Regions from separate parts of the Homo sapiens genome. Here regions 1 and 2 are each linked to region 3. Evidence: fine-mapped expression QTL. A gene starts in region 3. Each other region holds a variant in brackets. All regions are shown on one strand. Distances are between the middles of the regions. Region 1 overlaps SLC25A26 (solute carrier family 25 member 26). Region 2 overlaps SLC25A26 (solute carrier family 25 member 26). Region 3 holds the start of SLC25A26 (solute carrier family 25 member 26).

Region 1 (8,107 bases), 160 kb after region 3:
CAATTTTTAGACATAATTGCTACTGCATACTTAATAGACTGTAGTAGAAACATAACTTTTCTGTGCCCTGGGAAACGAAGAAATTTGAATGGCTTGCTTTATTGCAATATTCACTATTATGGTGGCCAAACTTGGCCTGGGACCAAACTTGAAATATCTCTGAGTCATGCCTGTACTCTTGGTGAAAAGGTTCAAAGGTTATGGAAGCGTGGGCCAGGAATGTGTCCTATAATCCACAGGCAGCAGGCATTCAGTTTAGGGCTTAAGACACATCCCTGGCTTGCCTTTTAGATATGGAATCATAGTCCTTGGACTTAGTTTTTTAAACCTGTTTTGTAATTTTTTTATGTTGGCATCTGTAGATTTCCTCATCTTTATCAGCTACATAATCATCCACTGTATGTTTATACTGTGCCATAACTTATATCACCATCAGCAATGCCACAATGAAAATTTTTGAACAAATATCTGAGTAGGTATGGGGAGGGGGGGCAGTTTTAAAGAATGAATCCCCAATTTGTATCCTCGTGGCATTGTAGTTTTACTTTGCATTGCTCTGATTATTCTACATTGCACCTTGGCTGGTTAGCAGCACCTTCTGTGATACCAAGGGGACTGTGCAGGTGGAGGCATGCTGCCCCCTTCACAGCCACAGCCCATTTGCCTTTCATGCCTTTAGACAGAAAAGGAACACAGGGAATCCATGGAGGTTCAACTCGTTGTCGTGACGTCATGTTTTGGGGTCTCGAAGGACAAAATGCAACTGAGTCAGTGGGTGGAGCGGCAGCATTGCCCAAAAATCTCTTCACTGAGCAACCCCTGGAGATCACTTTAGAGGTGTGGGCTGGAAGTGCCTTCCAGCCTTACCTAGGATTCAGCTCTTTAACACCTTTTTAAAAAAAATCAATTTCATGTTTCAAAGGGAAAAATGGCATGAAAGTTTTAGAACTACTGTTGGGACACAGCTATTACTTGCCTTATTTGGGAGCGTTCACAAGCTGTTTGGTAGTTAGCCACTAATGAGCATGGTGTATTGAGCTGAGCAAGCTGTGGGTATTGGAATTTAACCTTTTTTTAAAATACGCACAACATTAAAAATCCTGTTTTTTCCCCTAGATTATTTGCAGGTGTCTTCCCTCGAATGGCAGCCATCAGTCTGGGAGGTTTCATCTTTCTGGGGGCTTATGACCGAACGCACAGCTTGCTGTTGGAAGTTGGCAGAAAGAGTCCTTGAAGCAGAGACAAGCCTCACCTCCACTTCTGTCAAGAGAGGGGCCTGCAGTGCAAACCCTCTTCCGCTGAGCAGCTGTCTGAACTATAGGCCCCAGTGCTGAAGACCAGTTGTGCTAAGATACCGGCATGGAGATTGTGCCATCCGTGGTATAGGCTGGCTGGTATGAAGTCATTGGCCTGTATGCCAGAGAGCTAAGAGAAGAAAACGGGGTCTGTGGCGGTACTCTGAACAATTTCCTCAGAACCTCTTAATAAATAAGTTTGGTAATGCTGAGGCCAGGCCTTTTAGAGCTTTCATTTGATCTGTATCTGATCTTTCATTTCCTGCCACCTGATGGTGGATTCAGCAGAAGGCAAGATGGTTATAATTCTAAAAGAATAGCTTGTTTGTTTGTTTGGGAAAAGGAGACTTGGGGAAGAGTTGTGTATGTGGGTGTTTCTCCCCCTAGTTAATTCCTGTTGTGTAAGGGTAGGCTTTGTTGAAAAAGAAAGAAAGATTGAACTACAGGTGCATAGCAAGCACTCTTTCTGGGTAACTAGGCTGCTGGTTTTAATTACCCTCAGATTTCACCCATAAAAACGCACAATTGTATTATTTTACAGAGATGTGTCCAGCGCCCCCTGTGGTGTGTGAGAGAAAGCAGCTGCAACTCAAGTGACTAGGTGGGCCCAGCTGGCTTCGTGCAGGAGGGCACGGTGGGTGAGCCATTCTCGCCATTCTCATGTCAGACTGAAAGGAGGGCCTGGGCCAGCTTTGAAAAGGCAGGATGAAATGGAAAGGTCACCACACTTAGGGATTTTAGACCTTGACTAACAAGCTCCAGGTGTAGAAAAATTCAAAACAAAATGTCAGGAATCTAGCAGTGTTGTCTGCCCTGGAGCAAACAAACAGTATGTGATTTTGCTTCGCCTATTTTTTTTTTCTTTTTTGGGGGAAGATAATTAAAGGCAGAATGACTGCGTTTGTAAAAGAAGGACCACCAACTATACTGACATTTATAAATGAACCTTTATTAAAGACACTTCAATGCCATTTGTTAGACACTTCAATATTTTACATGGTTTTCAATGTACACTGTACCAAAATTTCTATAAATAAATAACTTTGTACATAAAAGTAATACTCCCTCTTTCACATTGCCTCTCAGAAGCAGCAAATTCACATATTTTGTGGAAGTAAGATTAGTCAGTTAACTGTCAAGAACAAAATTCTAAATGTGCTTACCTTTTGAACAGTGATGACACCTGACAGTAATTGTTAACTATTTTCTCAGTAACTCCCTTCAGCTTTTGGCCAAAGGAACATTTGAAGGACCTTGTTTCTATTTAAGTTTTACTAAATGACACATTGGCACTCATAAGATGGTTAGCTACCAGTCTCAAAAGTGCAAATTATACCCAGAACCCAGGTCAAGGGCTGTCCTTTCCAGTCCCAGCTCAGTTTCATCTGTGCGAAGGAATGGCATGGACAGGCCTGCTCTGGGTCCTTAGTAGAAATAAGGTAGCCCTGAAAAGTCAGAACTTCCTCCTTTCTGTCCCCCAAGGCCAATGTAATACTCATTATATTGGCAAAACGAAAACATCAGTATAGAAAAATCCACAGGTACCAACACCAGCAGCCTTTACCTTAATTTAAAAGTCTCAAATAGCAATCGAATGATACTGAGAAGGCCACATTTGCTTTTATCATAAAATAAGAGGAGGAGGAAAGGCAGTGTTTAACTGTTCTGACCTTTTGCTTGTGATGGATTAACAACCCTCATTCTACGCCTTACAGACGGACAGATTCTACGCCTTACAGACAGACAGGACTTAAACCTAAAAGGAAAAGCCATTCACTGCAAGTGTGGATGGCACTTGCACCCCTGGCTCTACAGACAGGGAAGCCTGTTGCAGGGGCATCCACACATGAGCAGTGCTCACCTGAAGCTCCTTCCGGCGCATGTGGAGTCCCACCGCACAGCAGCCTAGGGGTCTATGAAGTGCAATATAAATCCAAGGCCTTCCATCCTTCCCACCCCGCACCAAAAACTCCTGTGAACAAATGTGGTTGTAGCCTCTATAAATTCCAGCCATGCGTTAAGGCACCAGAACTATTTCCCC[AC/A]CCCCTCCAAAATTAAACAGCAACCTGATACGAAAAATAATATTGTCAAAATTGTATAATTTTTTTCTGTTAACCATGCACTAAAGATTAAAATAGCCTCTGTAAAAGATATATATGAAATCTCTGAAAACTCTTATGTACAATGATATCAAATACTTTTTTTGCCTTTTGTACACAAATCCCCTCTTGCGTTTACTGTGCTTCAGATCCAAGTCCTGTGAGCGACTGATACTCCACATGGGAGTTACAACTATGTACAGATGAGTGACGCTTGAACCCAAGCTTCCTCGCAGCCTCTCCTACCTCTCTTTCCCGTAGAGATTGGTATGACAAGAACTGAGGTAGACAAAACCTAGCTTTTTGGTGCCAACAGCAGTGGCACCCTCTGTTTCCCGGGGAGCTGTCCTGTCAGTGGCGTGGACTCGGGACTGGCGTCACATGCTTTGGGGAGGTGGCCATTGGAAACAAGCAAGTACTGGGCTTCCGCGCGCTCTGGACTGCCTGAAGTTAATGAAGATGCAGGCTGTAGCTCTGTGGAGTCCGGGTGATACAACCTTGCTAAAGTCCAGGAAGAATCCCCTACAAGGAAAGAACGAACCTGTCAGACCCCCACTTGACCGTTTAAGCAGCTCCCAACCCACCTGTTAGAAGACAGTCAAAAGTTACCTTTCCCATCTAGAGATGCCATTGGCTTTTTCTTCACAGCCGTCAGCATTCTATCGTGGTTACTGGGGTAGAGCGACCCTTGGCACTCGGGGCAGGACCCAGCGGCAGTCCTGCTGCACTGGTGATGTGGAGAATGCTCTTGGTCACTCCCACCCGGCTCCGGGCCATTTGGCGCACTTGGCTGTGCGCTGTCTCTGGACACAGGCTGGGGGTGGAAGGCTTGTCCCCTGGAGTAACAGTCCACTTCGGTGTTGCAGTCACTGCATACGACCCGGCCACCGTGTTCTGAAGGACAGCGCCAAAGATGGGTTAGAGTCACTGCTGTGGGAGTCTTCGTCCCCACACAGAGGACAGGCTGCTCAGCTCCACTGTGCAAGGTGAGAACCCTGACTGCAAACACTGTATGCATGCTTCCTCTTTTCCCCAACTATGTCCCCAGAGAAAGGACTGGGCAAACACCAAGTCACTCATGAACTGTGGGGTCTTTCGTGTTTACAGTGAATTTCATAGACAATGTAGTCTTACTGCTTCACGGGGGAAAAGCCATTAGCCTTAGGTACCATGCAGTGTTGGGTCTTTTCAACAATTAGAAATAAGCCTCAAAATAGCCCTGGTGAAAAAGTGCTGACTGAAACTCTATACTTCGTTTGTGCCTTGCCCCTTATTTAAGTTGCTTATACATCTAGAAAATTCATGCTCAGGCTTACCATGGCGTAGATTTATTTAGGAGAAACTATCCTGGAATTAAGAGAGCCAGGCCTGAGCTTCCCCTGTATATACTGAATACCAAATTTGGAGACAGCTGTGGACTAGGAATGTGTCTCCCCCTTTGATGTAGTGACTAGGTCAGCCCAAATTTCCATTTCAGAAAGAAACTACTTCCAATGGGAAGCATCTCATACCCATCTTATGTGGCCCAGGTGTCCCTTCAGCTTTCTCCATCGCTTTCCACGGCTCTTTGTGATACGCAGACCCAGCACAGAGCTTTGGCTGCCTGCAGGCAACGCTGTGAGTGTCGGGCTCTGGAAAGTGGCTTGCATCTCTTGGACACACACCTGCAAGTGGATTCCAACACGATTAGAAACTCTGGGCTTGGTATTTCACAGTAAGCCTTATGAAAGGAATGAGCAAGGCCGCTAGAACAGTCATTTTTTTTAAAAAGTTCTTCAGAGCGGTGGGGCTGCTGGTCTGGCAAGCAGCGTGTTTTCTGCTACTACTTCCCAGCAGGCAGGCTGGCCTTGTGAAATGAGCAGCTGTCTCAGGGTGAGCCTCTACAGTCTCAGGCAAGTGCTCAGAGGCCCCCACCGTTGGAAGTACCTCATCCTGGTGACAGCTTTCCAGTGTAAGACTGGATCACAGAGCAGACCTGGGCACGTTCCCCATGTAAGGAATGGGTTGGCTGGGTTCATGCACCGTAATGCCCTTTCCAGCTGCTACTCCAGGCAAGCCTACTTTATCCTGCCAGGGAGATGCTAAGCCCAATCCAGTGGCTTCCTGAGGGGACAGGACTTTAAAACCTTGCAGAACTCATGAAGACTGGGTCCAAAATAGCAGCCCTTAGTCATACCGCCTTCTACTTCACCAAGTTTGCCCCATCTAATGCCAGGTACCTGCCCTGTAAAGACCTGGAGGCCACCTCCAGCACCCAGAGACACAGTCACAGCAGAGCTCTGCTTCACAGTTACTGAGGCCTTACCATTGCTCTCAATGTGCCCATTGGCCTGAGGGCCACCCTCGGTCCTGACCACGGTTTCTTGTCGGTCAGAAAGGGTCCCCTGAGAAGAGAGGTAGCTTGGAACATCTGGTGGCACGACGGTTTCATCTGCAAGGAGACAGAACAAATAGAACACCAGGGTCTCAGTGACAAGAAATGCAGACACACGTTCACTGTCAAGCTCAGAAAGGGGATCCTCCCAGTGACGACCATCAGCGCTGTGCAGAGAGATGACATGGAGTCCATGTACGCAACAGGCCCTCCCAGAGCCTGCTCAGCTTTACTCTACACCCAGCGTGAAGAGCGCAGCCAGCAGATGCCAGACGCCACAAGAAGTGGAGACCAGTGATGGAAAGCCGGGGCTCACAGAAGTACCGCACTGTTTCAGGAACAACCTACTACGTGGCAGCAGGGCCTGTGCATAGGCGGCCTCTGAGTTAGCAAGGAGAGGGAAAACTGCATGGTGCGTCAGTTACTTGTATTTGTGAGTATTCCTGTTTAAGGTTAAATTTGAGAGTATTCCTGTTTAAGGTTAAGTTCCTCAAAGTTAAAATGGAATTAGTGGGACTAAACCCTCAGGAGTTCTGAACACAGTGCAATTCTTTCAAAAGCCACTGGAACCCGGCCCAGTTCCCCAGCATCACTGCCATTCCTCCCTCCTTGAAAGTCAGCTCCGCTGGCAGGGCCTGACCTGTGTTGGTGACACTGTACTCTTCACTCTTCTTCCTGGTCTGGTAGATGATGCACACCCAGACCAGTGACGTCAGGACGATGCTGCTCACGACAGCAATGGTGAAGATGCCTACCGTGGTCCCATCCTTCCTGCAGCCTGCTGCGGGCAGGACGCTCAGCTGGCTGTGAGCTCGCTCCGTGCCCAGGGTGTTGGACATCTCACAGGTATATCGGCCCGCATCCTCTGCCACCACGTTCTGAACCACCAGGAGCTGGTTGTCAGGGGTCAAGTGGTGCCGCTCAGTGAGGCTCAGCGGGCGGTCCCCCTTGAACCAGGTGATGCGGGGCGGAGGGTTCCCCGTGGCTTTGCATTGGAGGGCCACTGTTTCTCCCACAGATACCACACGGTCTTCCAAGGGGACCACCAAGGATGGGGTCTCTACAAGAGAGCAACAGAGATCTTAGTCATTCTCAGGGCCTCCGTTGCTCTGGCTCTGCCCGGTCTTCTGGACAACGGACAATCCAACATATCAATGAGATGCATCTGAGATTCTGTCTCAGAGTGGCAAGCTTTGGAGAAGACCCTTCAACTCATTGACTGAGTCATCTCCATGCTGGGAGTGGCTTCCACAGGGACAGTGAACCTCTGCTGACAAAAGCCCCTGCTATTCCCTAACTGTCCTGTGTCAGGCCTGTGTCCTTATTCTTGACCAAGCCCACATCCATCCTGTCCAATTCTTAAAATGTTCTGTAGCTCTTGACCAAGCCCACATCCATCCTGTCCAATTCTTAAAATGTTCTGTAGCTAAACCCTATGAAGACTCTTAATTCACCAGCTATCATTTCTTTTAAAGAGATAGAAACACTTGTTTAAGAAAAATTAACTCAACTCAAAAAGCAGCCCCAAATTTCAAACAGGGTCGAAAGGCCCACAACGCATACCACCCCTGGCCACACAGAGCATTTGAGAGTCTCTCTCTCTCGCTCACACACACACACACACACACACAGTAGAGCAATAGGCAAACCTAGGACAGTCAGGGTGGCATTAGCTGAAATAGAACCGGCTGAGTTCTGAGCAGTACAGCTGTAAACCCCTGCGTCATCTATTTTCACATCAGTGATGAAAAACACGTCGTCATCCGGCATGACATGCATGCGTCGCTCACGGGCAGCGGGGAAATCCGTGCCTCCATCCTTCTGCCAGGCAATCTGAGGGTTTGGGTGACCTGTGGCAGCACATTCGAGGCGGGCCATGGTGGTGGTCCGGATGGTTATGTCGTGGGGCGTTTTGGTGAATGATGGCAACACTGGAAAACATACGTATACAGGGTCGGGTTACGGGACAGCTAGATGCAAAACCAGGAAGTCCTCTGGCAAACACCTACCTGTCACTGTGCCCAGTGCCAGTTCACTTCTTTTCTCCCAATGTCTGCCCAGGACCACTCCTGCCACCTGTGAATCAGGAACCCCCAGCTTCTCCCACCACAGTTGGAACACTTCCATCCCATCAGCCTTGCATTGTACACCCTAGGCTGGCTATAGTCCCTTCAAAGCAAAGGCTTTTACTCTACATGGCAGTGCCTATACGGGAGTTGCAGGGGGTGCCCATCCACACTAGGTAGGCCTGATGCTTGCCTGCTTTACCCACCAAGAGAGAGGCTGTGGAGATGGAATTACAGAGGGAAGGTGGGCATGCCTCCACCTTGGGAGAGCAA
Region 2 (8,107 bases), 80 kb after region 3:
AGCTGGGCATGGTTGTGGGTGCCTGTAATCCCAGCTATTCGGGAGGCTGAGGCAGGAGAATTGCTTGAATCCGGGAGGTGGAGGTTGCAGTGAGCCAAGATCGTGCCATTGCCCTCCAGCCTGGTCAACAACAGTGAAACTCCATCTCAAAAAAAAAAAAAAAAAAAAGAATGTCTGGCATTAATTCTAGAACTGAGATGCTCTTTTGCTTAGTAAAGTCATTTTTTCTTTTTGATCATTAAGCTACATGAGGTTTTGTAATGCATTCCATTTGTGGCTGTTCTTTATCAAAATATTACTATAACAGTAGCTTCCTTAGTACATCAGACATCAGGACACTGAAGGTCTAGTTGCAGTTTTGCCACTCGCTATCTTGTGCCTTTTGAAGTTGTTTAATCTCTCTGGGTATTGATTTCCTTTTTTAAAAAATAGTTGGTAAACTATGACCTGTGGGCCTAATCCAGATCACAGCCTGTTTTTGTAATAAAGCTTTATTGGCATGCAGCCACTTTCTTTCATTTATGTATTGTCTGTCTGCTTTCACACAACAGTGGCAGAGTTGAGTAGTTGTAACAGAGACTGTATGGACCATAAAGCCTAAGCTATTTATTATCTGACTCTTTACAGAAAAAGTTTTCTGAATCCTAGACTAGATCATCTTTGAGGGCTGTGCTGTGCCTTAGATTAGATTTCCTTTTTGTCAATTTCTCTTTAATTCTAAGTTCTCAAAAGATGTCTGTCTTTAAAGGATATAGCATATCATTTCCTCGTTATCAAATTTGCAAATTATGAAAAGAAGGAAAATACTGAGTAGATCATTGGTTCCCAAAGTACAGTCCCTCCACGAATAGCAGCTGCATTCCCTAGGAACTTGCTAGAAATGCAGAATCTAAGTCCCCACTTGAGATCTTCTGAATCAGAAACTTGGGGTGAGGCCCAGAATTTGTGTTATACACCCTCTGCATGATTCTGATGCATTCTGAAGTGTGAGAACCACTGGACTAGGTGATACAAAGTTCAGTTAACAGATTTTCTTCTGTTTTGAAAAAAAGAAGAGCTTAAATACCAAAACCATTTGATAGGTATATCAGGAGGAAAATGAAATGTTGGATATTATTACTAAGCTGGTGAAATTAATATTTTCTCTAGTAAAACTCCTTGTCATAAATTGTGGATAAGTTTTAATATAATGAGAAATTTCTGAGAGGTACATCTGTGTCACTTTCAGCATATTTTTAATGGACAGAAAAGTAAATATGATTTATTTCTTTGTGGGGTTTTCTTTTTTTGGTGGGAGATCACTTTGAATTATTTCAAAACTGATGATTTGTAATAAACAGTTTTCAGAATAAAAGAATTACATTAAGAATTAATTTGCTTGTGAAGAAAGTGTCTTAAGAAAAGAGCATTTAAGGGGCACAGCAGCCTCTGCTGTAGCTGGATTTCTTACCCATTTTAAGTGACATCAGTGTTGAATTGACTTTTTCCTCAGTGCTAAAAGCTGCTAGAAATGAGCACCAGTCACACTACTGATCTGTGTTAGGAAAGATCACAAACACAGTACTTTGTAATAAATGTCAGAGGAATAGCAAAATTGTACATGTCAAGAAAGCATTACAGGATGACGTTGCTATTTGGAGAATTGCTTTCATCTTTGAGATATCTCACACCTGCTTCATTTGGCATAGGTTGTTTCTATTTCATGAAAAACAGTCTTTTCCCTCCCCCAGATCCCAAGTTACATAGAAACAGTATGCTAACAAGGGAAAAATTTTAACATAAAAACTCACTTGAAGGTGCCATCTAAAAACTCAGTGTGTAAACTTAGTTAACTAACTTTATTTTGTTGAAAAGGGACCCTTGGTTTGTGTGTGTGTATGTGTGTGTACACATGAATACGTACCTATGTATACATTTGTTACTGTGTGTGTGTTTATATATGTATGTATACAGTTCATTTGATGTGCGTGTATATGCACCCATTTCCATGTATGTATTTAAAAGAATACATACAACAAACTTTTTTTTTGAGGCAAAGTTTCCCTCTGTCACCCAGGCTGGAGTGCAGTGGCACAGTCTCGACTCACTGCAACCTCCGCCTCCTGGGTTCCAAGCGATTCTCATGTCTCAGCCTCCCGAGTAGCTGGGACTACAGATGTGTGCCACCATGCCTGGCTAATTTTTGTGTTAGTAGAGACTGGGTTTTGCTGTGTTGGCCAGGCTGGTCTTGAAGTCCTGGCCTCAAGTGATCTGCTCACCTCAGCCTCCGAAAATGCTGGGATTATAAGTGTGAGCCGATGTGCTTGGCAAACAAACTTTTGTATATATAATCCTTTCATACTAATATTTAACTACTTGTAAAAACTATGTTAACCCCCAGTCACTAACACAGTTCCGTAGTCCATATTTATTATTGCTTCTTTCACTTTTCTCCTTTCTTCATGCATGAAAATATAATGTGATCCAAGGGGGTATGTGTGCATGAGGTGTGTGTTTATAGAGTAACAGTTAAATGTCTCGAAATAAACTGATTTGGATTTTTAGGTTATAGATGTTTTTGTTTTTTATTAAACGTCTTGATTGTTTGACTGTCATGGTTGTTTGTATAACTCCTTGAGAAACTTCCACATGCGGGTAGTTTTTGAAAAAGAAAATATTTATTTGCTTCAGTTTTTCAGGGGATGGTATCATACTGCTTTTTCACATTTTATGGGTGACATATTTGGCTATCTCTGGGCAAAAATCCAGTTAAAAATAATAGTATTTAATATTTAATAAACTACCAGGCTTTTGAGCCATCTGGAACTTTATTTTCTTTGCACGCAGCATCTGAGTTTCAGCTGTTAGCGTTTCTCCTTTGCTCTGGGAAGGGTCAATTGCTTTTAAAGTCTTTGAAGCTTGCTGTGTCAGCCCTTTTCATATTTTCAAAATGCCCGTGTAAAAGGGTTTTTCATCCATTCATGCTGATAAGTCTTTTGAACTTGAGGTTTGAACCAAGCTAATCAAATTTAATTATAGCTTAAATCCCGTTACAGTGAACTCCAGTGGACTTCTAGGCTAGGGTTTTTTTGTTTTGTTTTTTTTTTTTTTTTTGGTGTTATACTGGAATTTAGCCATTACCAATATTACTTGAAGTGAGCAGGCCATTGACTGCAGTTTGGGAGACCTTTTGTAATGGTCAGATTTTAGTTATAGTGACATTGGCAATATGATTTGAACTTTATTCTTTTCCAAAGGAAATAATTGAATTAGCCACAAGTAAAATTTCTTGTTCTTTGCATATATTTCAAATTACCTTTTCCTATTTGTCTTAAACAATTTTGAACAATTAAAATCTTAAAAGTACTTTCTTAAAGAGTCCTTTGGTGGTGGTGTCGCTGATGCTCGTTTTTTGTTTTTAAGATCCATAACAGAATAAGGATTTATATACATCCTCCTAGGGATAATGTCATGGTTTCTGCATATTTGCATAGCATTTTGAGAGAGACTTTTTCCTTTTTGCTTCATGAAAAAAAGTTTGAGCAGTATAATTTTCTAGAAAGAAGGAAATATAAATATTTTAGACTGTAGCATATACTAAAGGGAGGTGGACTAGTACTGATATTTTTAGTGCTTTCTTCAAAATGATTGCTAACACGTGTATTATATTTTAGTATCTTGTTGCATTCACTTGTTAATCTGTATTTATGCTTCTGTATATGCAGAGTTTTTTGTTTTTTCCAACACAATTTAAAATTCTACTTAAAAATTACTTGTTTGGATTTCTAAGCAGATTTGGGAATTACGGCATTGAAAATACTTTGTTGCTTTTTATGTCTCAATAAAGTCTATGCATTTTTATAATATTGGACCAGTGTTTGACCTGCCAGAATAAAATGATGATAGAACTCATTGTGTCCTCAAATAATTGGATTCTGAAATGGAA[G/C]ATAGGGTTCATGAAGAATAAAAAATAGTAGATCTCATGTAAAGGTGAAAATTTACTTTTCTTTTTAGTATTCAACTCAAAATTGCCAGTTTCCCTGAATTTATTATAGCAATTTCTCTTGTTTTAAAATGAAGTGAAATGTGAAGTTAATTTACATACTAGCTGCTTTGAAGTGTAATTTTGCTTGCCAAGTTGTTACAGATTTTTATACAGACTTTTTAAGGAATTTAGTAATAATGCTGCCACAGTGTGTAGGACAAGTTCATGCCTTGCATCTTTGATGGGCGTTAGAATTGTTTGCCACAGTTCCCACTCTGGTTGGAGGGCACAACCAATTCGTCTATGCCTTTTGACTTCCATGCCGGAGAGTGTGACTTCTGCATCTGTTTGTTAGTATTTTTATGTAAGCAGAAGCCAAGAATGTCATTAGAAAGTAAAACTTTAACAAGAGGGACTGAATCCTACTAGGCCAACATAATTTATAGAGAGCAGGGGCTAACATTTTCATTTGGGAAAAATGCTTCCATTTCTATACGTGTTTAGACGGAGTACCTTAAGCATTGTTTTAGTCTTTTCCTATCTACATGTTACCATTCAGAACTTAGGTGGATGAAACACATTTTATATGTAGTTACAGAGAGATACAGAATTAAAAGCCTACAGATACAAGCATTAGAATTGTGACGGGGGTAATTAGAAACATGGAGTCTGAAGGTAGCCTATCTGGATTCAAATCCCAGCTCCAGTACTTAGCCATGTGGCCTTAGGCAAGTTATTTAAACTGACTTATTTTGTTCCTCTGTAAGATGAGAGTAACAATAATACCAACCTCATAAGGTTGTTGGGAAAATTACATGTGTTCCTGCATATGAAGTGCTTAGGACAGTGCCTGAAATACAGTCCTATATAAATGTTATAATTTATGATTATTGTTGTGATGATAATGATGATAATATCACTAGCAGCTCCTCTGAAACTTGTTGGCCTCATCCAAGGCCTATCACTTAGCTTTATCCCCAGTGTCTCTAATACTCCATCTGTTGTGCAGAAGTATATCCTGAACCTTCCTCCCTCTGAATTTGCCCACTTGGCACCTCTTCATTTGCTCTTACAATCTCTAGACCATAAATTTCAAAGACGTGGCCCAAAATGTTGGACTCAAGGTTTTTGCAAACTACAAGCTAACATGTTAAAATTGAGTGGTTTCATATACAACTCCAGTTATCCAAGTTTTCTTGGACAATCTGGGTATCTGGTCATAGTGGGCCTACATTTCTGCATGGCAGTAATTGTCTAGAACAGAGTAGCGGCTGCTTGTTTTGACAGAAACTGCTCTCCATGTCATCAGAGTCCCTGCCACTTCCTGTTGTTTTGACACTTTTCTCATTCTAGTCATCGATATCATTTTTTTGGGTCATGTAATACTTATTTGCTGCCAGCAGTTTAGAGTAAGCAGCGGTTCTCCACCATGTGTTCTGCACACTCATACTCCACTAGGCCTTTGCTGATAGGTCACCAGATTTTGATTCATGTGTAAAACATACATTAGTTAAAATCAAGTATGCATAATAGTGTTTTGGCTTTGTCTGTCAGAAGCAACATTGAGCTGGGCAGGTGTGCTTGTGTATTAGAGCTAGATACAACTTGGTGAAAAGGTTAGCCCATATTTAAGTTCAAACCAAAGAACAGTGATTAAAGCCCAAGCCAAAGAAAATTGAGATATGGGAGAGCTTTGCCTTCTGAGTGTGTAAGGGAGCACAGGTGGTGCACGCCATGTGTTCAGTGTCTCAGTGCTAGGGAGTCAGCAGGGATAAAGAAAGATAACTGATGCCTTAGAGCAGAGTTTAAGGGGCTGTGGATTGTGTCCATGGGGACCCCCCTTTGCATTCCAGGCTGTGTAGCAGCATCCCTGGCCTCTACCCACTAGATACCAGGAGCACCTCCCGTGAGTAGTGACAATTTAAATGTCCCCTGGGAGGTTGAAAGATGCAGAAGACATTATAATATAGTAGTTATCATGGTCTAGTCACTGTTGACATCTTTAATACTGCTTTTAGTCTTTGAATCCTTTGAAATATTGGCTTTGTACTCCACTTTTCTAAAGCATTCAGTATTTATTTTATGGCCATTTTACTACAGTATCAGAGAGGAGATATACTTCTCTCCCCCTCTCTAGTCAAGCACAACTGCAAGTATCTTTAAGGCGCAGCCACCTTTAAGGAAAGACTTCTGGGAACAGCTAACTGTGTTGGAGGAACTGGGCTGTGGCTCGTCCTCTGCTGCTCGTTAGCCCTGTGAACCTGGGGAGGCTAGCTCCCTCTCTTAGTCTTGGCTAAAAGTGAGGTGGCTGGATCAGATAATCAGCAAGATGCCTTCCAGGTAAGATTAGGCTGTAAGTCAGAAAATATTGTAGGACTTCTGAAACTTTAACTGCCAGTCAAGATCACTTAACTAGAATGTCCCACATTTTTCACTCCATTGAAATGAGTAACTTCAAGTGTCATGTAACATCAGGATCACTTAGGGGAATGTCTAGAGGTGCAGTAGATGATTGTTAGCTTTCTGTTGCTGTGTAATGAATTACCACAACTTTAGTGGTTTAAGGTGACATATATTGATGATCTCATGGGTCTCTACAGCAGCAGTCTGAGGACCGCGTGGCTGAGTTCTCCATTCACTGTTTCACACAGTGACAGTCAAGGTGTTGCAGGGACTGTGATCTCATCTGAGGCTAGGGTCCTCTTCCAAATGCACAGGGCGGTTGGCAGATGGCATTTCCTTGTGGCAGTATGACTGAGGATCCTGTTTCTTGTTAGCGATTGGATGGTGACCACACTTTACTTCCAGAGGCTGCTCTGAGGTCCTTGCCATGTGGCCCCCTCCATAGGCCCTTTTACAACATGAAATTTTATTTCTTCAGAGCCAGCAGGAGAATCTCTCACACTTCAGATCTTGTTAGGAAGGGGCTGGTTTTTCTAAGAACTCACCTTTGAAGTCAAGCCCATCCACGATAATTTCCCTCTTGATAAACTCAGAACCAACTGATGGGGGAACTTAATTAAATCTGCAGAATCCATTCATATTTCTGATTAAATGTAACTTCGTCACAGGACTTGTCTTTGTCCTGTTCACGGTCCCATCCACACTGGATGGGGGAGGATTATACAGGGCGGGTACATCAGGGAGTGGGAATCTTGGGGGCCTCCCACAATGCCTCTTGATTTAAAAAGATTCTGGAGCATACTTTTTCTTATGTCTCATATCTAAGCTAATATCTTCCCTTTTCTGTTCAGTTTCAGTTTTGTGTTCACATGTCTGTTGTCATATTTTTTCTTCTATTTTTGCAGGAGGAGGATTAGAGTCAAAGGTGTGGGGAGGCTTGTGAGCTTCTGTGAGTTGTTGTGTGTGGCTTGTATACATGCTGTTATACTGGTAAGCTCTGTAACAACCCCTGATTGCTGAACATGCTAACTGGGATATACGCTACATGGTTCACTGGTGCTTTCAGGAAACCATCGAGGTGTCAGGCATTGAGGATTCGTTGTTCACTAATACATTCTTTAAAATGCTTTTAGAATCATTATATCCAGTTTCCTTTCTCTCTGTACATGGGACTGATTAACCACCATGTGGGTGGAAATCTAATTTGTTGCTGGCTCAGAACTTTGCAATTTTCAATACTTTGCAGAATTATCCTGTTTACCAAATGAATTGTGATAAAAATTGATACATTAGTATTAAGAGGATGACTTATAACATGTACTATGATTTATAGGGCCAAAAAGACCTGATAAACTCACAACCATTTTACCCCATAATGTTAAGAAACTCAAAAGATTTTGTCACCAAAAAGTGTATCTTGTGATTTATTTTTTATGACACGGTAGTATCACTTGTTAGAGTTCTGAGATTCTTTATTAGCAACTGACAGTTTTCTAGGAACTGAATTTTTACACTTAGAGCTGCGAAAAGCCAAAAGCATTTCTAAATGATCTCCATCCCATTCCCCTCAAATAATAATGTACACGCTCATTATAGTTTGTTAGTTTCTCATGCCTTTCTTTGGTGTTCTCATGGTTGTGAGAAGTTGGGAGAAGCAGCGTCTAAATTTAGGAAATGGATTTCTTTTCTGTTACTAAGTACATTGCTATAATTTAAAGACAACAGGAGAACATGTCTTTT
Region 3 (8,107 bases):
ATCAGTCTCTCATTCATAATATTCAGAATCTCTAACTTAAATAGGAAAATACGGAATAAACCGAATATTTCTATATGACAAGCACTGGACTAAAACTTTCTGTGCATATATTATTTATTCCTCATCATCCTGCGAGATAGTAATATTTTAATCAACTTTATTGAGCTATAATTTACATATACTTTTTTTTTTTTTGAGATGGAGTCTTGCTCTTGTCACCCAGGCTGGAGTGCTGTGGCACAATCTCAGCTCACCGCAACCTCCACCGCTCGGGTTCAAGCGATTCTCCTGCCTCAGCCTTCTGAGTAGTTGGGACTCCAGGCGCGCATCACCACACTCAGCTAATTTTTTCTATTTTTAGTAGAGACAGGGCTTCACTGTGTTGGCCAGGCTGGTCTCAAACTTCTGACCTCAGGTGATCCGTCCACCTTGGCCTCCCAAAGTGCTGAGATTACAGGTATGAGCCACGGCGCCCAGCCTTATAGTTTATATATACTAAGTACAACCATTCTAATTGTGCAAGTCAATGCGTTTTAGTAAATGTACACACCCATGCGACTACTACCACAATAATAACAAGAGAATATCTTCATCATTGCAAACTATTGTTTTGTGCCCACTTCATAGTCAATACTTTGCCTCTACCTCCACCGCCTGGAAAGCATTTATATACTTTCTGTCACTATAATTTTGTCTTTTCCAGAATTTCACGTAAGTGGAATCACAATACATGTGGTCTTTTTTTTTTCACATAGCATAATGCTTTCAGATTAATCCATGTTGTTTCATATATCAGTAATTCATGTCCGTTTATTGTTGAGTGATGTTCCATTATAAAGATGTATCATAATATGTTTATACCACCAGTTGATAGACATTCAGGTTGTTTTCAGTTTTTGACTATTATGGATAAAGCTGCTTTGAAATATAATGTAAAAGTATTTGTATAAATGTTTAGTTCTCTCGGGTAAATACCTAAGTGTGGCATTGGATTTTATAATGGTTGTACCATATAAAATTCGAAACAGCAATGTATGAGATTTCCAGTTGCTTCTCATCCTTGTCAACACTTGGCTTTTTAATTTTAGCCACTCTAGTGAGTTCTAGTGTATTCATATCTCATTGTGGTGTTCACCGGCATTTCCCTGATGTGGTAACCAGTTTCCAAGATGGCACCCAGTGATCCTCATCTTCCGGTATTTAGGCTTTTGGGTAGTCCAGCCCCATAATAAATGTCGATTACCTGTGTAAACAATAGACTATTGCTGGAATGACAACTGAGTAATTTATGAGAACAGGTCATGAGAGACTTTGTAGTTTCTGTCTTGTTCTCTTTCAGACCACTTACTCTAGGAACAACCAGCTACTATATCATGAAGACACTCAAGCAGTACTATGGAGAGATGTATGCCATGAGGGATTAAGGCTACCTGCCAATAGCTAGCACTAATCTGCCAGTTATGGGAGTGAGCCATCTTGGAATTGGATCCTGCGGTCATGATCAAGTTTTATGATATGGCCCTGGCCACCATCTTGACTGTAGTGTCATGAAAATTTCTGAGTCTTAAACACCCAGCTAAATGACTCCTTGATTCTTGACGTATGAAAACTGTGTGAGGTAATAGAAGTTTATCGTTGCTTTAGTCTGTTAAATTTTGGGGGTAATTTGTTACGCAGAAATAGACAAATAATACAGATTTTGGTACTTGGAGGTGGGCGCTACTGTAATTCCTAAACTGTGGGAGTGCCATTGGCACCAGGCAGTAGGTGAAAGGTGGGAAGACTGTGAGGGAAATGTCAGTGAAAGCTTATTAATAGAAACTTGATGGCCTTTGAGGAGGCTGCCGGTGAGGGTTTATAGGAATGTGAAGTAGGCAGGATTCTAAGGTGGCCCTCAAGATTCCTGGCCCCTAATGTGTTTTGCATAATCACCCCACTGATTGTGAGCAGGACCTGTGAGTATGACAGAACATTACCACCATGATTATGTTGTCACGTATGGCAAAAGGAATTTTTCAGATATAATTAAGGTCTCTAATCAGTTGACTTTGAGTTAATAAAAATGGAGATTATCCTGGGTAGGCCTGACCAAAGCACATGAGACTTTGAAAGACATTAATAGCAGCAACAGAGATTCTTCTGCTGGCATTGACAAAGTGAACTAGCATGTTTTGAGAGGGCCTACAGGCAGCTTAGGGAAAGGTATTCTGGGTAGAGAGAACAACATGGGCAAAATTAGGAGGCTTGGAAGTGTATAGTCTGTCTGTGTGTAGTCCGGCTAGTGGGAAGAGTGACAGGAGACACCAGCTGAGAGGTGTATACCATGCTAGGGAGCTGGACTGTCTCCATTGGCAGCAGAGGGGAGTTGTAAGCAGGGAAATAACATTACCATCACCTTTAGAGAGTACTTTCTATGAGCCAGGAACTAGGCTAAGAACTTGAGTGCATTATCTCATTTAATCTATTAATATAATAGTACCGCATGACAAAGTGACTATCATTATCGCCACTTTACAGGGGAGAAAACTTAATCTTGGAAAACTTATCCCCAAACCCAGCAGGTGATAGAATTTGAATTCCATCTAACACCTAAAGCTATTCTGCGTATCATTTCTAGATCATTTTACCTAGAAGAGAATAAGAATAATTATAAGAATAATTCTAGCAGTGTTATAGAATAGGGATTGAAGAAAGGCCAGGCAAGGAGCCTGCTCAGGTTATTATAACGGTTTTGAGGAAAGATGATGAGGGCATTAAGTATATTTTCAGTGCTTGCTCTGCTGTGTTCTCTGTAGCCACATTGAGTCGGTTACTTGTTGGAGCATCAGGAGCCTCTGTAAAATGAGGACACTAGTGTTGCTGACATCATAGGGTTGGTGAAAGGATTAAATGAAAAAATGTCTGTCAATCACTTAGCACCACGTCTGAGATGTAGTTGGCCCTTAATATATACAGAAGTTTACAAGGTATTTGTTTGTTTAATAAAGACAGGTCCACTCCAAGAAATGTTATTAAGTACTTAATAACGTGTGCTTTGAGGTGTACACATGAGTACAACAGCGAACAACATGAGCAGGTAAATAACTGAACAAACAAATAATTTTAAATGCAGTAACTCTGTAAAGAGAAATGGAGGATGCTAATTTTTAACTCCGGTCAGGAAACTTCTGATGTATTTTTCTATATCTTTATTTAATAATCTTCTGATAATGAGTTAATTTAATATAAACTCAGATAAAATTTTTTGACAAAACTAAGAGATAAACCAAAATGAAATATCCGATTAGGATCCCGAATCGCGCCTCCCGAGGTTAGTACTACCCCTCACGACTCCTCCCTCCGCCACAGCCACGCCTCTTCTGGGTTTACAGTTCAGAATCACGCCGGCCTCATTCTACCGCTGCTCTCTCCTGGATCTCGGCCACGGATCTTTTGCTCGCGAAAGTTCCTCCGTCTAGCTGCACACAACGCTGCTGCAGGAAACCGAGGTAAGGGATTTGCCGAGACTTAGCTCCACCACACTCCCCGAGGCCCCGCCCCTCCTCTCTGGCCCTCCCCTAGGCCCAGGTGTCTCGCGTTGCACGTGCAGTTGTTGTGGTTCTACGTCACGTGGTCCCGGAAGTTCAAGACAGACCCGCCTCAAACATGGCGGCGCCCAGCGCGCGAGGACGTGATCCGCTTCTGCTCCGGCTTGGATTGTAGCCTTGACGAGGTCTGAGCGACCATGGACCGGCCGGGGTTCGTGGCAGCGCTGGTGGTGAGTGCGGGGCGGTGGGGTGGGTTGCTCAGAGTGCCGGCGTCCGGCATTGGAGCCCGCGGGCGTTCTCTGCACTGGTTTTCTTCCGGTTTTGCGGGCTGGACTGTCCTCGGGTTACTGGCAGCCAGGTCTGAGAGGGAGCACGAGGCTCCCAGGCCACCGGCGGGCCAGGTGTTAAGGCTATGTCTGTACTGCCAGGTCATAAGAGCCAGGTGGGGGAAGGAAGGTGAGTCATTGTCTTTTGCACCCTCATTTACTTAAAAAAGAGCTTCTATTATACACTGTTAACTACTCTTTCATTAAATAGTGTAACTACTCTAGAGATCTTGGGAATTAAAGAAATGTATGTAACACAACAACAAAAACCTTACTCACATCGCTCCCAGCCCTTCTATTCAATACTACGTTTCTCATTTTGCTGCATCTCTTTTCAGTCTTAGAAAATGACATGTCCTTCTGTTCATTCAATACATAATCTGCTATTTCTGCTCCAAGCCTAGGCTTTGGAGAAATATTGGTGAGCACACATAGCTCATCGGGAACGCTGCGGAGTCAATAAACAGGCTTAGTATTTAATTCCGTAGCAGAAAACTACGAGAATCAACATGAATTAACAGAAAAAAAAGTCCTTTACCAAATATTTTGGAGCGTCTGGTAGAGGATACTAGATACAGCAGTTAACAAAACAGAGTTTGGCTGCCTACGTTTTCATTGTGTGGAATGGGCAGAGACAGACAAATAATTTTTAAAATGATTTTCATAGGGAAAATGGAGGCCCACAGTGATTTAGTCACTTAATTATCGAATTTTGGTGTTGCAGGTGTTGAGGATAACATGGTGAACAAGATAGACCTGCTCCTAAGGGTCAGGTGTTAGAGACAAAATAGTAAAATGACTGTTGGGATAAATAACAGGTGGGCTAGGTTCAGGGTGTTAGGGGAATATATGGAAGTAGGGATGTCTTAGCCAGACTTGTAGGATGATAGCTTTAAATCTAGATTTGTTGAAACTTGTATAAGGTAGGTCTTAGAAATATAAAGAAATAATGTTACTGATTTTTTTTTTTTTTTTTGAGAAGGAGTCTCACTCTTCGCCCAGGCTGGAGTGTGGTGGCGCCATCTCGGCTCACTGCAGGCTCCACCTCTCGGGTTCACGCCATTCTCCTGCCTCAGCCTCCCGAGTAGCTGGGACTGCAGGTGCCCGCCACTACGCCCAGCTAATTTTTTGGGTTTTTAGTGGAGACGGGGTTTCACCGTGTTAGCCAGGATGGTCTCGATCTCCTGACCTCGTGATCCCGCCCGCCTCGGCCTCCCAAAGTGCTGGGACTACAGGCGTGAGCCACGGCGCCTGGCCAATGTTACCGCTTTTAAGGAGCTTTCCTGTCTAGCTGGTGACACAGCAGCAGTAGTTTGTCAGCTAACATTCCTGTGCCAGGAACTGGGGTAAGCTCTTTACATACATTATCCCATTTAATTCTCACAATAATTGAACTCTTATCCTAATTTTCCAAATGAGGGAAGTGGGATACCAAGAGATTAGATAACTAGTTCAAAATCACACAAGTGAGATCCATTTCGTCTGTGTAAGTATTGGAGCTCATATTCCAACCCAGGTGATGTCACCTGGGAGTCGTGCCCTTATCTGCTTCTTGATACTCTCCGAAGTCAGCAAAGGTTGCAATTGCTAAAACACAGGTGAGTGCTGCAGTTAACAAAAGAATGGATTTAGTATATACTTAATTAAAGTATGATACACATGCAGTAAAGTATACTTTTTTCCCAATGTATTTATAGAGGGTAAAATTAGAATCAATAGGTGGAAGTTTCAAGAAACTAGATTTCATTCCAGGTAAAGGAAAAACATTTTATTTATGCATTCAGCACACAATTTTTCTTCCATCTATTCTGCCCACTGGGTATTGTGGTAGGCTTTGTAGATACAGTGGCAGATAACCCCATTTCAAGTAGGGAAGAAAGGCCAGCAGATAAAACAGTTGCAATGAATAAGTGCTATGAAAGAAATGAACTGAAGATGCGACAGAGTAGGCAAATATTGGTGAACCTCTTAGATGGAGTGACCAAGGAAAGCCACGAAGTGGTAACATTTCAGCTAAGACCTAAAAGATAGGAAGGGGCTTGAATTTTTGATGATCAGAGTGGGAGGTTCAGTCATGGGGAATGGCTCAAGTGGAAAGAGCTTAGAGTTTTCAAGTGGTGAGGCCTAATGGGTAAGGATAGCATGGCAGGGGTTGGTATGGGAGGGGTAGGCAAAGCCAGCTGAGGTGGGGCTTTATGGGCTAGGGAAAATAATTTGGATTTCATTTGTAGTGTAATGGAAGCCATTGAAATGTTTTATTATCAGAGTAGTACGGAAATGGAGTGGCTACTTTTTAATGTCTTGGAGTGCGTTTGAGACACAGTGAACACTCCTGAGGGAGTTTGGTTTTGCTTACTACTCTTTTACCAGTACCTGGCACTAGGTAAGCACTCAGTACTACTTTGAATGAAAAGCCTAGATGATTGCTGAAGTCTTGAAACTTGGATTTGAAGAATTAAATGAGGTAACATTAAACACACAGAGCAGAGCCTGGCAAGTAGCAGACATTGAAATGCTCCCTTCCTAAAGCTTCATGAAGAGGATTGAATAAGTGGAGAGCCTCTGGGATGTTAGTTATCATTTGGAGCACAGAGTGGGGTATCCAGAAACAAAATCCTCAAAGAGTACATTGATCAGTGCATACTTTTAGGAAAGCAACTGGAACTATGTATTAGCAACCTAAAGATATTTATATAAATAACATTTAACTCAGTGAAGACAGTAAGAAGCTGCTAAAACATGGGACAGAGGGGAAGAATTAGACAAACAATGGGAAACCCATTTCTTGGACTAGTCTGCAGCCATAAAAAATAGTGCTTGTGAAGAGAATGTACTATAATTACATGGAAAATGCTTATGAGATAAAATTAAGAGAAAAACATTGCATGTATGTATATTTGCTTGTACCTAATTAAAGCTATGTTAAAACCTATTCCATTCATGGGGAAAAAAAGCCAGATTGAAATACTCCAAAATAGCACTAAGTATTTTTGGTGGTAGGATTACATCGTGTTAGTCTGTTCTCATGCTGCTAACAAAGATACCTGAGACTGGGTAATTTATAAAGGAAAGAGTCTTAATTGACTTACAGTTCCATTTGGCTGGGGAGGCCTCACAGTTGTGTGGAAGGCAAAGGAAGAGCAAGTCATGTCTTACATAGTGGCAGACAAGAGAGCATGTGCTGCAGGGGAACTCCCCTTTATAAAACCATCAGATCCTGTGAGACTTACTCACTATTACCAGAAGAGCAAGGGAAAGACCTGCCCCCATGATTCAGTTACCTTCTACCAGGTCCCTCCCACAACACATTGGAATTATGAGAGTTACAATTCAAGATGAGATTTGGGTGGGGACACAGAGCCAAACCATATCATTCCACCCCTGGCCTCTCCCAAATCTCCTATCCTCACATTTCAAAACCAATCATGCCTTCTCAACAGTCCCCAAAGTCTTAACTCATTTTAGCATTAATTCAAAAGTCCACAGTCCAAAGTCTTATCTGAGACAAAGCAAGTCCCTTCTGCCTATGAGCCTGTAAAATGAAAAGCAAGTTAATTACTTCCTAGATACAATGGGGTTACAGGTATTGGGTAAATACACCCATTGCAAATGGGAGAGATTGGCCAAAATGAAGGGGCTGTAGGCCCCATGCAAGTCTGAAATCCAACAGGGTAGTCACATCTTAAAGCTCTGAAATCATCTCCTTTGACTCCATGTCTTACATCCAGGTCACGCTGCTGTAAGAGGTGGGTTCCCATGGTGGCTTTGTGGGATACAGCTCCCCTCCTGGCTGTTTTCATGGGCTGGCATTCAGTGTCTGTAGCTTTTCCAGGCACAGGGTTCAAGCTGTCAGTGGATCTACCATTCTGGGGTCTGGAGGACAGTGGCCCTCTTCTCACAGCTCCACCAGGTGGTGACCTGGTGGGGACTCCTTACTGGGGCAGCCACATTTCCCTTCCACACTGCCCCAGTAGAGGTTCTCTAGGAGAGCCCCACCCCTGCAGCACACCTCGGCCTGGACATCCCGACGTTTCCGTACATCATCTGAAATCTAGGCAGAGGTTCCCAAAGCTCAGTTCTTGTCTTCTGCACACCCACAGTACCAACACCATGTGGAAGCTGCCAAGGCTTGGGGCTTGCATCCTTCGAAGCCATAGCCTGAGCTCTACCTTGGCCCCTTCTAGCCACGGCTGTAATGGCTGGGACACAGGGCACCAAGTCCTGAGGCTGCACACAGCAAGGGGGCCCTGGACC

The links. PIP is the estimated chance that this variant, and not a neighbour inherited with it, causes the effect.
Region 1: its variant is fine-mapped to the expression of SLC25A26 in whole blood (TOPMed, PIP above 0.99).
Region 2: its variant is fine-mapped to the expression of SLC25A26 in blood mononuclear cells (TOPMed, PIP 0.99).

Annotation. Positions count from the first base shown.
Region 1 is chr3:66,376,574-66,384,680 of GRCh38, forward strand. It overlaps SLC25A26 (solute carrier family 25 member 26), which reads left to right. Exons shown (of 10, transcript NM_001379210.1): 10 at 1,117-2,350. The coding sequence ends at 1,234. LRIG1 (leucine rich repeats and immunoglobulin like domains 1) reads right to left here. Exons shown (of 19, transcript NM_015541.3): 14 at 7,418-7,699; 15 at 6,409-6,828; 16 at 5,700-5,825; 17 at 4,906-5,058; 18 at 4,004-4,288; 19 at 2,224-3,916. The coding sequence ends at 3,690. Among named protein-coding and RNA genes, the nearest start is that of LRIG1, 120 kb to the right of the region's middle. RefSeq lists enhancers at 6,122-6,623, 6,624-7,123. The variant AC/A (reference allele first, on the strand shown) is at 3,337.
Region 2 is chr3:66,297,181-66,305,287 of GRCh38, forward strand. The region is part of intron 5 of SLC25A26 (solute carrier family 25 member 26); the gene reads left to right. Among named protein-coding and RNA genes, the nearest start is that of SLC25A26, 80 kb to the left of the region's middle. The variant G/C (reference allele first, on the strand shown) is at 3,926.
Region 3 is chr3:66,217,371-66,225,477 of GRCh38, forward strand. SLC25A26 (solute carrier family 25 member 26) reads left to right here and starts at 3,631. Exons shown (of 10, transcript NM_001379210.1): 1 at 3,631-3,757. The coding sequence starts at 3,725. RefSeq lists enhancers at 3,244-3,403, 3,574-3,633, 3,755-4,254.